2 separate regions of the Homo sapiens genome follow, and region 2 is linked to region 1. Evidence: fine-mapped expression QTL. A gene starts in region 1. The other region holds a variant in brackets. All regions are shown on one strand. Distances are from middle to middle. Region 1 holds the start of FAM3D (FAM3 metabolism regulating signaling molecule D). Region 2 overlaps LOC105377109 (a long non-coding RNA gene).

Region 1 (5,376 bases):
ACTCTTGGCCCCCTAATGGGATTAGGTCTGCATCCTGATCCCCAGAGCATGCGAATATATAACATAACTGAGCAAAGGGGAATTAAGGTCTCAAATGGAATTAGAGTTGCCGATCAGCTGACCTTAGGATAGGGAGAGTAACCTGGATTATCCAAGTGGGCCCAGTGTTGTCACCGGGTCCTTAAAAGTGGAAGATGAAAGCATAAAAGAGTTAGAGGGAGATGTAAGGAAGGAAGAATTGTCATGGAGACCCAACATTGCTGGCTTTGAAGATGGAGGAAGGGGCCATGAGCCAAGAAATGCAGGTGGCTTCTAGGCACTAGAAAAGACAAAAAATGTTTCTTCTGGAGTCTCCAGAAAGGAATGCAAGCCTGCCAGCACCGTGATTCCAACCCAGTGAGACCCATATCAAGCTCCTGCCCTCCAGAGTGGTTAGCTTCACAGCTGTGTTATGAAGCTGCTGGTCTGTGTTTGTTTGTTACTGCAGCTCCTCAAAGCACCCCTCCTCAGAGAGGCCTTCCCTGACCACCTGCTGAGGAAAGTTCTCCTGGAATCACTTTCATGGGTTCTTTCACAGAATGTCTCAATTTTAAATGATTTGCTTGTGAAGGAGTTCCGAAGTAACTCCCCAAAATATGCCACTTTGAGACTTTGAACTGAGGTCACTTGGGGAACAGCAACTGCAGGGAGGGGCTTTCCGAGTTTTCCTTTTCTGTCTAAAGACAGATTGTCCAGAGCAAACGCAGTGGCCATGAATCTCCGCCCAGGGAATCTCATCAGCCGGAAGGACTGGCTCGTTTCACAGGAGTCTAAAGGTCCACACTACGTCCAGATAGCCTTTGTCACAGGCTGTCGTCACCTGTCCTGCTGAGGGCCCACTCCTCTTCCCCAGAAATCATTTACTCTCCACTACGGTGCTGACACCCCACCCCTCTCTCCCTTGTGAAGAGGGTATACAAGCTTCTAAATCTTACTGGGTGTGGGGAATTCCTTTTCTTTCCTGGGATGCCCCCATGCATGTGATAAATGTCTGTACCTTTTCTCCTGTTATTCTCCCTGCTGTCAGTTTAATTCCTGACCAGCCAAGGCAGCTAGAAGGGTAGAGAAAGCCATTTTTACTCCCCTACACTTGTGTGCTTATTTATATTGGAAGTGAGGGTCAGGAGGGCCCCCCTGAGGAAGTGACACTGCAGGTCAGGTCTGAACAAGACCCAGGCACCAGTTATGGGCAGAACCGTCCTAGCAGAATAAGGGAGAGCAAGAGGCAAGGAGATGGGACAGAGGACAGGACCAGTCCTAAAGCCAGTCAGAGTGAAGGAAAGCACTGCCTCGCCCTGGGATACATCCTGAGGGGGCCCACGTGCCTACCTGGGGATGGGCAGCTGGAACAGCAGAACTGGGGCCACTCCCGGCACCTCATCACACAGGGTCCGCTCCCTGCTCTTCCCTTGCACCAGCTCCCTGGGCATGCATCTTCATTTCCTGACCAGCTGCTGGACCTCATGCCCCTGAATATTCCTTCCAAGTGGGCCACACAGCCTACGGAAGCATTCAGAGTCAGCAAACAAGGGAGGAAGTTGCCAGGAGCCTGTGTGCCAAGGACCGAGGCAAGAACTCCTCCTAAGAGGAAAGCGCTTGGGAAAGAGACCATGATTTGTGACAAAGACTGGGAGTGCTGGATCAGGGGAGGGGGAAGCTGAGCCCCTCTCAGTGCACCTTGGGTCCTAAGGAGAGAGAAGGGAGACAAAGGCTGCATTCACCATTTCACTAAAAGTCTGCCACTGAGCAGCCCTTCTTTTCTTTCTCCGTCTTTCCCTTTCTCCACACCCCACCCCCTCCACCTTTAACCTCTAATTCAATATGCCCCACCCAAATCCAGAATCTTTTCCCAAACCACTTCCTCTCCCCCATCTTCCTCACTCTTGACCAAGAAGCCTCCCTTTTCCATCATCCAAGCTCAATATCTTGCAGTTGCCTTTGACCTCCTCCATCTTTCCTGTCCTGAGTTTCTTGCCTGGGTTCCCCTCTTTCCAGTCAGCCCCTCCAGCACCCCCCCACACTCTAGTCCAGAACCTCAAAGCAGGTGATCATCAGCTGCAGTTACTCGCTCTACCAGCCCCACACCTCCCAGCGCCTGGGGAGGTTGTTAGCACAGGGTCGGGTTTTTTGTAAGGTTTTTTGGCTGTTTTCGAAGGCAGATTGTGGTATCTCATTCCTGATTAAGTTGCTTGAATTCCCACCCAAACCTCCCTTGCCAAGGTCAGGATAGCTCTACAGGAAGGGAACAGGCATGGCCCTTCTCCCCAGGCCCCAGCCAGGCCCTAAGCCACTCCTCAGCCAGGCAAGACTTTAGACTCATTTCCTGCCCCGTGAGCACTTAGAATAAACTTCCTCCTTCCTTGTGAGATTGTTTAACAGGGCAGGGAGAGTTGATGGCAAACTTCCTCAAAGGAGGGGCAGAGCCTGCGCAGGGCAGGAGCAGCTGGCCCACTGGCGGCCCGCAACACTCCGTCTCACCCTCTGGGCCCACTGCATCTAGAGGAGGGCCGTCTGTGAGGCCACTACCCCTCCAGCAACTGGGAGGTGGGACTGTCAGAAGCTGGCCCAGGGTGGTGGTCAGCTGGGTCAGGGACCTACGGCACCTGCTGGACCACCTCGCCTTCTCCATCGAAGCAGGGAAGTGGGAGCCTCGAGCCCTCGGGTACGTCCCCCCAAGAATGGAAAGGGCTATGGTTCCAGGTACACATGATTGACAGAGGGGAAAATGGAGGTGGGGAGGGTGGGAAATAGGAGTGAAAGAGCCTGAGACAGAATGATGAAAGGAAAGAAAGAAGGAAACCACATAATCGAAGAGATTCCTGAGATCAGACTCAGGAAGGCAAATAGATTTCATCTGAGGCACCAGGCCTGATCAATGAAATTAGACTGTGATAAAAAGGATTCTGGGGCTGGGTTCGGGCTCAGGCAAAAGCATGCTATGATTGATTAGCTATGTCTGCCATGGGCACAAGAAGGAGCTGTAGGGCATGCCAGCTAGGGATTTGATAACCCACACTGCAGGGTTTTTTCCTTAACCACAGGGGCCCCTCAACATTTATTCTTTCATTCACTCATCTATTGATTCAAAAAAACACATTCCAATGATCAACAGTGAGCCACACAAATATTTGAAAAATGAATAAAAAAGAAAGGAATGTTGTTCTTTGGCCCCAAATCTCATTTTTCTCATAAGGTAATGATCTGAAAAGTTATGACAAAGGTGCATGGACTTGAGAGATTTTCTAGCTATGTAATATTGAGCTAGTCCCTTTCACTAAGACTCAGTTTCCTCATCTGTAAAATGGGAGAGAGAGTCTGAATATCCCCCATCAATCGCTGAAGTTCTCATTGTCTACGCAACTATGATAATCATCACTGAAGTACATAAAATAACATGTATGATGTGCTAAGTGCTCTCCATATAATAACACATTTAATCTTCCTATCACCTCTACAAGGAAAGCACCATGATTATTCCCACTCTGCAGACGGAGAGCCAAGGCAGTGAGAGATTTAATAACTTCCCCAGGCAATCTGGCTGCAAAGCTTTTGCTCCTGCCCACTATGCCACACTGACTCTACACTGCAGTGGATTCTGAGTCCATGGCTGGAAGTGGGCTGCCTGGGTACAAGAGTGTCCTTCTAGATGATTCATCCAGTGAGCATTAATTGGGTCAGGTAAAAAAGACACAATGATTAACAAGATGAGGTATCATACATGGTTCTAACCAGAAAGGGAAAACTTGCACAGATAGTCATTTTCAAAACAGTTTGACATACACCATGGAGATAGCCTGGGAGTCAGGGCAGACTTCTCCCAAGAGAATGCCGGGTCCTTCAGGAGTGAAGGGCAGGGGAGGAAAAGATTGGGTCAGTGGAGAATCTCTGAGAAGGGGGAACAGGAGGAAAGAAAGAGGAGGGCAGAGCAGCTCAAGCAGGAAAGGGGTAGTAGCTGGTGGTGGAAGGTGAAGTCAGTGAGGTTGTTGCGCCCAGGTCTGCACAGGCTAGGGAGGAGTTTGCCATTGCTCAGCATCTGCCCAAATCTGTGCATCTGCCTGTCTGCCCTTGGGCACCTGGAGGTTTAGGGGCTTCTGTCTTATGGCCATGGTGTGCACACCTCTTCCTGAGCTCAACTCCATCTTTACACACAGACCCTGCTGCTTCCCATAGGAATGTTGAAGCCTCCAGAACCCAGGGGCCTAACTTCCTCATTGGCACTTCCCTGCGGTGGGGGATGCTCGAAGTCATCATTTGCCAACATTTCCTGGTGCTGGGGCAGCTGCTCCCCCTTGGAGGAGACCTACCTGTCTACTACTGGCAGTCCTGGTGAGACTTCAAGTGGGCAGCCGACAAGCCTGCCTGGGGGACTGGCAGCCCCCACCCAGCCTGCAGTCCCAGAGGGCAGGTGCCCTGGAGCGGAGCAGACATTTCCTACAGTTGGTGCCAATCCCTTGCTTCTGGAGGCTCAGAGGTTTGCTCCCCCAAGGGTGTGGCCTGGGGAGACAAAGACATAGAGGTTGTGGGGAGAGCAACCCTGCCTTTGGCATTTGAATCCCAGTTCTGCCCTTTTTCCAACCATGTGACCTTAGGCAAGTTGCCTATCTTATTGGCTTGTCTGACCCTCCCTTATCTCAAAAGAATGAGGACGGTAATAAGTTCTTTGGGATTTGACAGTGTGCATTTTGAAAAAGACAATGTGTGCAAAGCATCTACCATGATGCTTGCCACGTAGTAGGTGCACAATATAGGACAGTGCTGTTGTCCAAGCTGTGCACCTTCTATGCACCAGGCAGTCTGCATGGAACTGGGCATTCAGAAATGATTAGACACTGTCTCAGGAAGTTCACAGCCTATCAGATAAATTAGTCACATCAATGATTGAGAGTAAAAGGAGTCAGGGACTGCACTGTACAAGAGATGTGAACAAGTTCTACGTAATCAGTACAAACAGCAGTCCCAAAACTGGGCAACGCATATGGAGGGTTGACTGTGTCTATAGAATGGTGCCAAGTACTGTACATGGATTAGCTGGTTTAAATACAATAACTTTGCATGGGAGGTCTTATCATCCCCATTTTGCAGTGAACTACTGAGGCCTAAGGAGGTGAGGTAACCTGCCCAAGGTGGCAAGGCTATGAACGGTAGAGAGAAGCTTTATGGCCAGGCAGTCCAGCTCCAGGATCCATGCTGTTGGCCACCACACTCCTCTCCCTCCGACATGCACACACATCGCAGAGGGAATGATCTAGGCCTGCACAGGCTGCAGAAGGGGGACCTCACAAAGGAGGCCACATTCCACAAAGTATGGAATTCCTCTGGCGAGGACAGGTGAGGGCA
Region 2 (5,376 bases), 42 kb before region 1:
GAGGAACAGAGGCCTAGGGAGGAGAAAGGGGACATGTAAAAGCACTAGCCAGGGTCACAGGTGTCCTGACAGGGTTGGAGGCCAGGGCTTGTTTCATTTTTGCCATGCTGCTTTCCTCACCACGTGATCTCACTAAATAATGGCACCATGCATTTCCACTGCCATCCTGCAAACAGGAATCTTTGCTAGCAGAGCGGCATGAATGTTGCTTCAACACAGTGTCTTGATGGTAAAATCCATTCACAACACCTTCCTTTCGCCTCAAATTTTTTCCCTTCAATTTGTTTGAAAAACCTTGCTCCATGCTTACGACAGCGCTTCACCATCCACAGGACAGGAAATGAACAGTAACCACTCAAAAATGCATGCTGTTTACTGTAAGAAAGGAGATGGGGTAGAGATGATGGCTGGTACCCTTGATGAAGCCACTTTTGGAAAGGCAGCCCCTCTAATCTAGCCAAATGCATGACTGAGACACCCTGGTAAACAGTGTGGCCTTTACTATCCCCTCTGCACACGTAAGATATGTGACCTTGGGTAAGTCACTTAACCTCTCTCAGCCTCAGTTTCCTCATCTGTAAAATGAGAATAACAACAGGACCCACTCCATAGAGTTGCAGGGAGTATTAAATCAGATACTAGGTATGAAGCACTTAGTCTAGCATCTGGCTCAGAGTAGGTCCTGGAAAAACAGGGACTGATAATATCCTTTCCCCTTCTGAATATCTAAAGGCTAAGAACTTGGCAACATCATAGCTAGTGAGAAGTCAAGGATATCTGGTTTTTTCACTGCAGAGTCTGTTCTAGTTATCATTATGATATGTAAGAATATCAATGAAAAGTCCTAGAGTTTAGGGTCCTGAGTTTGAGTCTTTTCTCTAACCACACCCTGGTATCACCTTTAGCAACTCACTGCTCTCTCAAGGCCTCAAAGCGAGTTACCTTCAGCAACTCACTGCTCTCTCAAAGCCTGGTCAGGGTTGCTTGGAGGCACACACTTGCTCTCCTACCCTCCAACCCCCTCCACAACCAGCTATGGCAGACATTGCTAGTCAATCATGGCACCTGGGGAGGACAGAGCCAGCAGTAGGCCTGCAATCCATTCTTTCCCTCTACAAGGAATGCTTTGGGAAAGAAAGGGAAGTACTTGATCAGATTTTCTTCTAAACATGCTAATAATGACAGACCTTCTGGAAAACACACTGACGGTATTTACTAGGGGAGAGTTCTTACCCATGGAATGATTTTGGCAAGGTATACCTGAGTGTCTGAGTTACTCATGGCAAACAAATGTGGGATCCATGGATTTTTGGGGCATGTCTTCCTGGAAAATGTCATATAACCTTTGTAATTTTTGAAATATCAAATGGAGATGCCTCATGATCAAAATGTGTCCGGAATTGGTTCCTTCCAGTGGGTTCTTGGTCTTGCTGACTTCAAGAATGAAGCTGCGGACCCTCAGGGTGAGTGTTACAGTTCTTAAAGATGGTGTACCAGGAGTTTGTTCCTTCAGATGTTCAGATGTGTCCAGAGTTTCTTCCTTCTGGTGGGTGCGTGGTCTTGCTGATTTCAGGAGTGAAGCTGCAGACCTTCGCAGTGAGTGTTACAGCTCTTAAAGGTGGCATGTCAGGAGTTGTTCATTCCACCCAGTGGGTTTATGGTCTCACTGGCTTCAGGAATGAAGCTGCAGACCTTCACTGTGAGTGTTACAGCTCATAAAGGTAGTGCAGACCCAACGAGTGAGCAGCAACAAGATTTATTGCAAAAAGCAAAAGAACAAAGCTTCACAGCATGGAAGGGGACCCAAGCAGGTTGCTTCTGCTGGCTGGGGTGGCCTGCTTTTATTCCCTTATTTGGCCCCACCCACATCCTGCTGATTGGTCCATTTTACAGAGTGCTGATTGGTCCGTTTTACAGAGGCTGACTGGTCCATTTTTACAGAGTTCTGATTGGTGCATTTACAAACCTTTAGCTAGACACAGAGCACTGATTGGTGCATTTACAATCCTTTAGCTAGACAGAAAAGTTCTCCAAGTCCCCACCCAATTAGCTAGACACAGAGCTCTGATTGGTGCGTTTACAAACCTTTAGCTAGACACAGAGTGCTGATTCATGCATTTACAATCCTTTAGCTAGTTAGAAAAGTTCTCCAAGTCCGCACCTGACCCAGAAGCCCAGCCAGCTTCACTTCTCAAAAAGAGCCCTCTTTTGTGTGTTTCTCCCACTGCCATTGCTTAGATTTCACTTGTTAATGGAGGAGAGGGCATTCTAATGTGGCAAGAGAGAATCTGGGGATCTTCACTGGGCCCTCTCTGTGCTTTGGCCTGTGCCTCACAATTACTAATACGCTTAAAATTGCCAGTACAGTTTGATACTAGATGAAATCTGATTCTTGCAAGTCTGATCTGGCAATGCAGTCCTTTGTGTTGTCTCAGCACCCTAGGGCTAAAGGTTAGAGCTGTACAGATTCTGAGAACACAGGTGGTGACCTCCTTGGGGCCAGGGTTCATATTGTACTCCTGTGTCCCTATTTCTACACACTGGATGTGACCCATAGTAGGTGCTAAGTAAACAATAGTTGAACGAGTGTTGGTTGTATTATCCTGGGAGTTGATTTTCGGGCCCCTGACTCTTCAGCAGAAGCATTCAATGATAACAACTCAGACAGGAGAGCAGGGGCAGGAAGTGGGTGAGGGGGAAGCCATGAGTAAAGCTGTGCATGTCCTCAAACTCATTTTGACAACTTTGACCCACACCCAGAGACTGCTTCAGTGTAATAGAGGGATCTGGCTAGTGTTGAATGCCCTTCTGAAACAGTTCCATCAGCTCAACAGATCTATTTCCTGCCATTGTCATAAATAATCCATATAAGAAGGATTGACATTGGTGATAGAAGCCTTATAATCCATCAGGTTGAACTTGAAAATTTTGTGGAAATGGCCAATTTTTAAAGCTTATTAGCTTTAAAAAATACGTTTCCACTAAGTTCACCAAGAATCTCTTATTAAGGAATAGGAGAGCTACTGAATATCATTTATTTTCCCCAATGCAGCTTAATAATTAACATGGGATTTTTTTAAGAGTCAGAAGCAGGTAAAGAAAACACAGACAAATTCTATTCATCTGAAATCTGCACATCTTTAATGGAAAAGACAAAAATACCAAACATATAAAAAAAAGAGAGAGAAGTTTCAGAAAAAATGGAATTCAACATTTATTGGAGAATAATTTTTCACTGCACTATAATAATTCATTAACCCCAGAATAAACCTAAAGTTAATGATTATTGTCATTATGCAGCAACATCTCACATTTTCCAAAGAAAAAAAAAAATCAG[TAAGC/C]ACAATGGTGTCCCCTTGGAAGCCTTTTAATGCTTATTTTTGGTGAAATAAAATCCATTACCCAGGAAAAAAAATGCCCAGTGCTGAAGATTGTGCTGCAGTCCAGGGCCTGGGTAGTGTCACACACCGTATTTCAATAGGAGAAAAGCCTCGAAATTGAATTACTGCCTGAAGATTTTGTGCGAAAGAGGGCATTGTCAAAGGACCTTGTCAGATCATATTCTGTATGTTTTATAAGGCATCTCATAGTATATGTTTAAATCTCACAGATTTTATGCTGGGACACAAGAGGCCTGGGGCTGGGAGCACTGAGGTGTTAAAGGACAGAGATACAGTGAAATAAAATGCTGTCGCTCCAGTCTCTGTCATAATTCTCTCAGCTTACAAAGTGATCTTAGAAAGAGAAAGAGAAGGAAAGAGAGAGTGTGTGTGCATTTTTTGGAAGGTAGGATTGAAAGGAATGTCTTTTTTATCTATTATTTAATTACCTTAATTAGGGTTTCTCAACCTTAGCACTATTGACATTTTTGTTACCAGAAAGGGGACCTGATCCAGACCCCAAGAAAGGGGTTTTGGATCTCACACAAGAAAGAATTTGGGGCAAGTCCACAGACTAGAGTGAAAGAAAGTTTATTAAGAAAGCAAAAGAATAAAAGAATGACTACTCCATCGACAGAAAAGCCCTGAGGGCTTCTGGTTGGCTAATTTTATGGTTATTTCTTGATTATATGCTAAATAAGTAGTGGATTATTCATGAGTTTTCCAGGAAAGGGGCAGGGATTTCCCAGAATGAAGGGTTCCTCTTCCTTTTAGGCCATATAGGGTAACTTCTGGATGTTGCTGTGGCATTTGTAAACTGTCATGGTGCTGGTAGGAGTGTCTTTTAGCATGTTAATGCATTATAATTAGCATATAATGAGCAGTGAGAATGACTAGAGATCACTTTTGCTGCCATCTTGGTTTTAGCAAATTTTGGCAGACTTCTTTATTGCATCCTGTTTTATCAGTGGAATCTTTGTGACCTGTATCTTGTGACCTCCTATCATCCTGTGACTACAAATGCATAACCTCCTGAGGATACAGCCCAGCAGGTCTCAGCCTCATTTTACTGAGTCCCTATTCAAGATGGAGTCACTCTGGTTCAAGTGCCTTTGACATTTTGAGCTAGATAATTCTTCATTAGGGAGTGGCAGTGGGCTTGTACCTATACTAGGATATATAGCAGCATCCCTGGCCTCTGCTCACTAGATGCCGGTAACACTATCCACCTCCCAGGCATGATCATCAAAAATGTCTCCAGACATTCCAAATGTACCCAAAGGGGGCAAAATCACCCTCATTAAAAACCACTTACTGGGCCAGGCATGGTGGCTCATGCCTGTAATCCTAGCACTTTGGGAGGCCGAGGCAGGTGGATCACCTGAGGCCAGGAGTTTGAGACCAGCCTGGCCAACATGGCAAAACCCTGTCTCTACCAAAAATACAAAAATTAGCTGCACATGCTGGCAGATGCCTATAATCCCAGGTACTCGGGAGGCTGAGGCAGGAGAATCACTTAAACCTGGTGGGTGGAGGTTGCAGTGAGCTGAGATCGCACCACTGCACTCCAGCCTGGGCAAAAGAGCAAAACTCCATCTCAAAAAAAAAAAAAAAAAAAGAACCACCGACTGGGGCCTCAAAGATTATCACTGGGATCAGGACATGAAGAGTAGAAAGGACGCAATGTCTCTGGTGCCCACTGCAGCTGGCTGTGTGCTCAATGTCTGCCCAGGAAGGAATCTGCTCTAAGCAGAAAATATGATCTGCACCTGCAGAGGGGAAAAAAAAAAAAAGTCAGTTTCCAGAATCTTTCTACCTGTGATGTCATTAAAATTAACTGTAGATGTATTACCAGACTTTCCTCGTCCCCTGCCCAGAAAAGAGAATTCAGGCTTGGGCCATGAATTAGTCAGGGCTCTCCAGAAAAGCAGAAGCAGCAGGATGTGTGTATAGAGGGAGAGATTTAATTTCAGAAACTGGCTTACATTATTATGGA

What was found. PIP is the estimated chance that this variant, and not a neighbour inherited with it, causes the effect. A credible set is the group of variants that fine-mapping cannot tell apart.
Region 2: its variant is the best candidate, but not a certain one, in a credible set for the expression of FAM3D in nasal epithelium (TOPMed, PIP 0.61).

What each region holds. Positions count from the first base shown.
Region 1 is chr3:58,663,901-58,669,276 of GRCh38, reverse strand. FAM3D (FAM3 metabolism regulating signaling molecule D) reads left to right here and starts at 2,503. Exons shown (of 10, transcript NM_138805.3): 1 at 2,503-2,701. LOC105377109 (a long non-coding RNA gene) reads right to left here and starts at 4,644. Exons shown (of 3, transcript XR_940879.3): 1 at 4,344-4,644; 2 at 1,369-1,724.
Region 2 is chr3:58,705,695-58,711,070 of GRCh38, reverse strand. It overlaps LOC105377109 (a long non-coding RNA gene), which reads right to left. Exons shown (of 3, transcript XR_940879.3): 3 at 4,987-5,149. Among named protein-coding and RNA genes, the nearest start is that of FAM3D, 42 kb to the right of the region's middle. The variant TAAGC/C (reference allele first, on the strand shown) is at 3,338.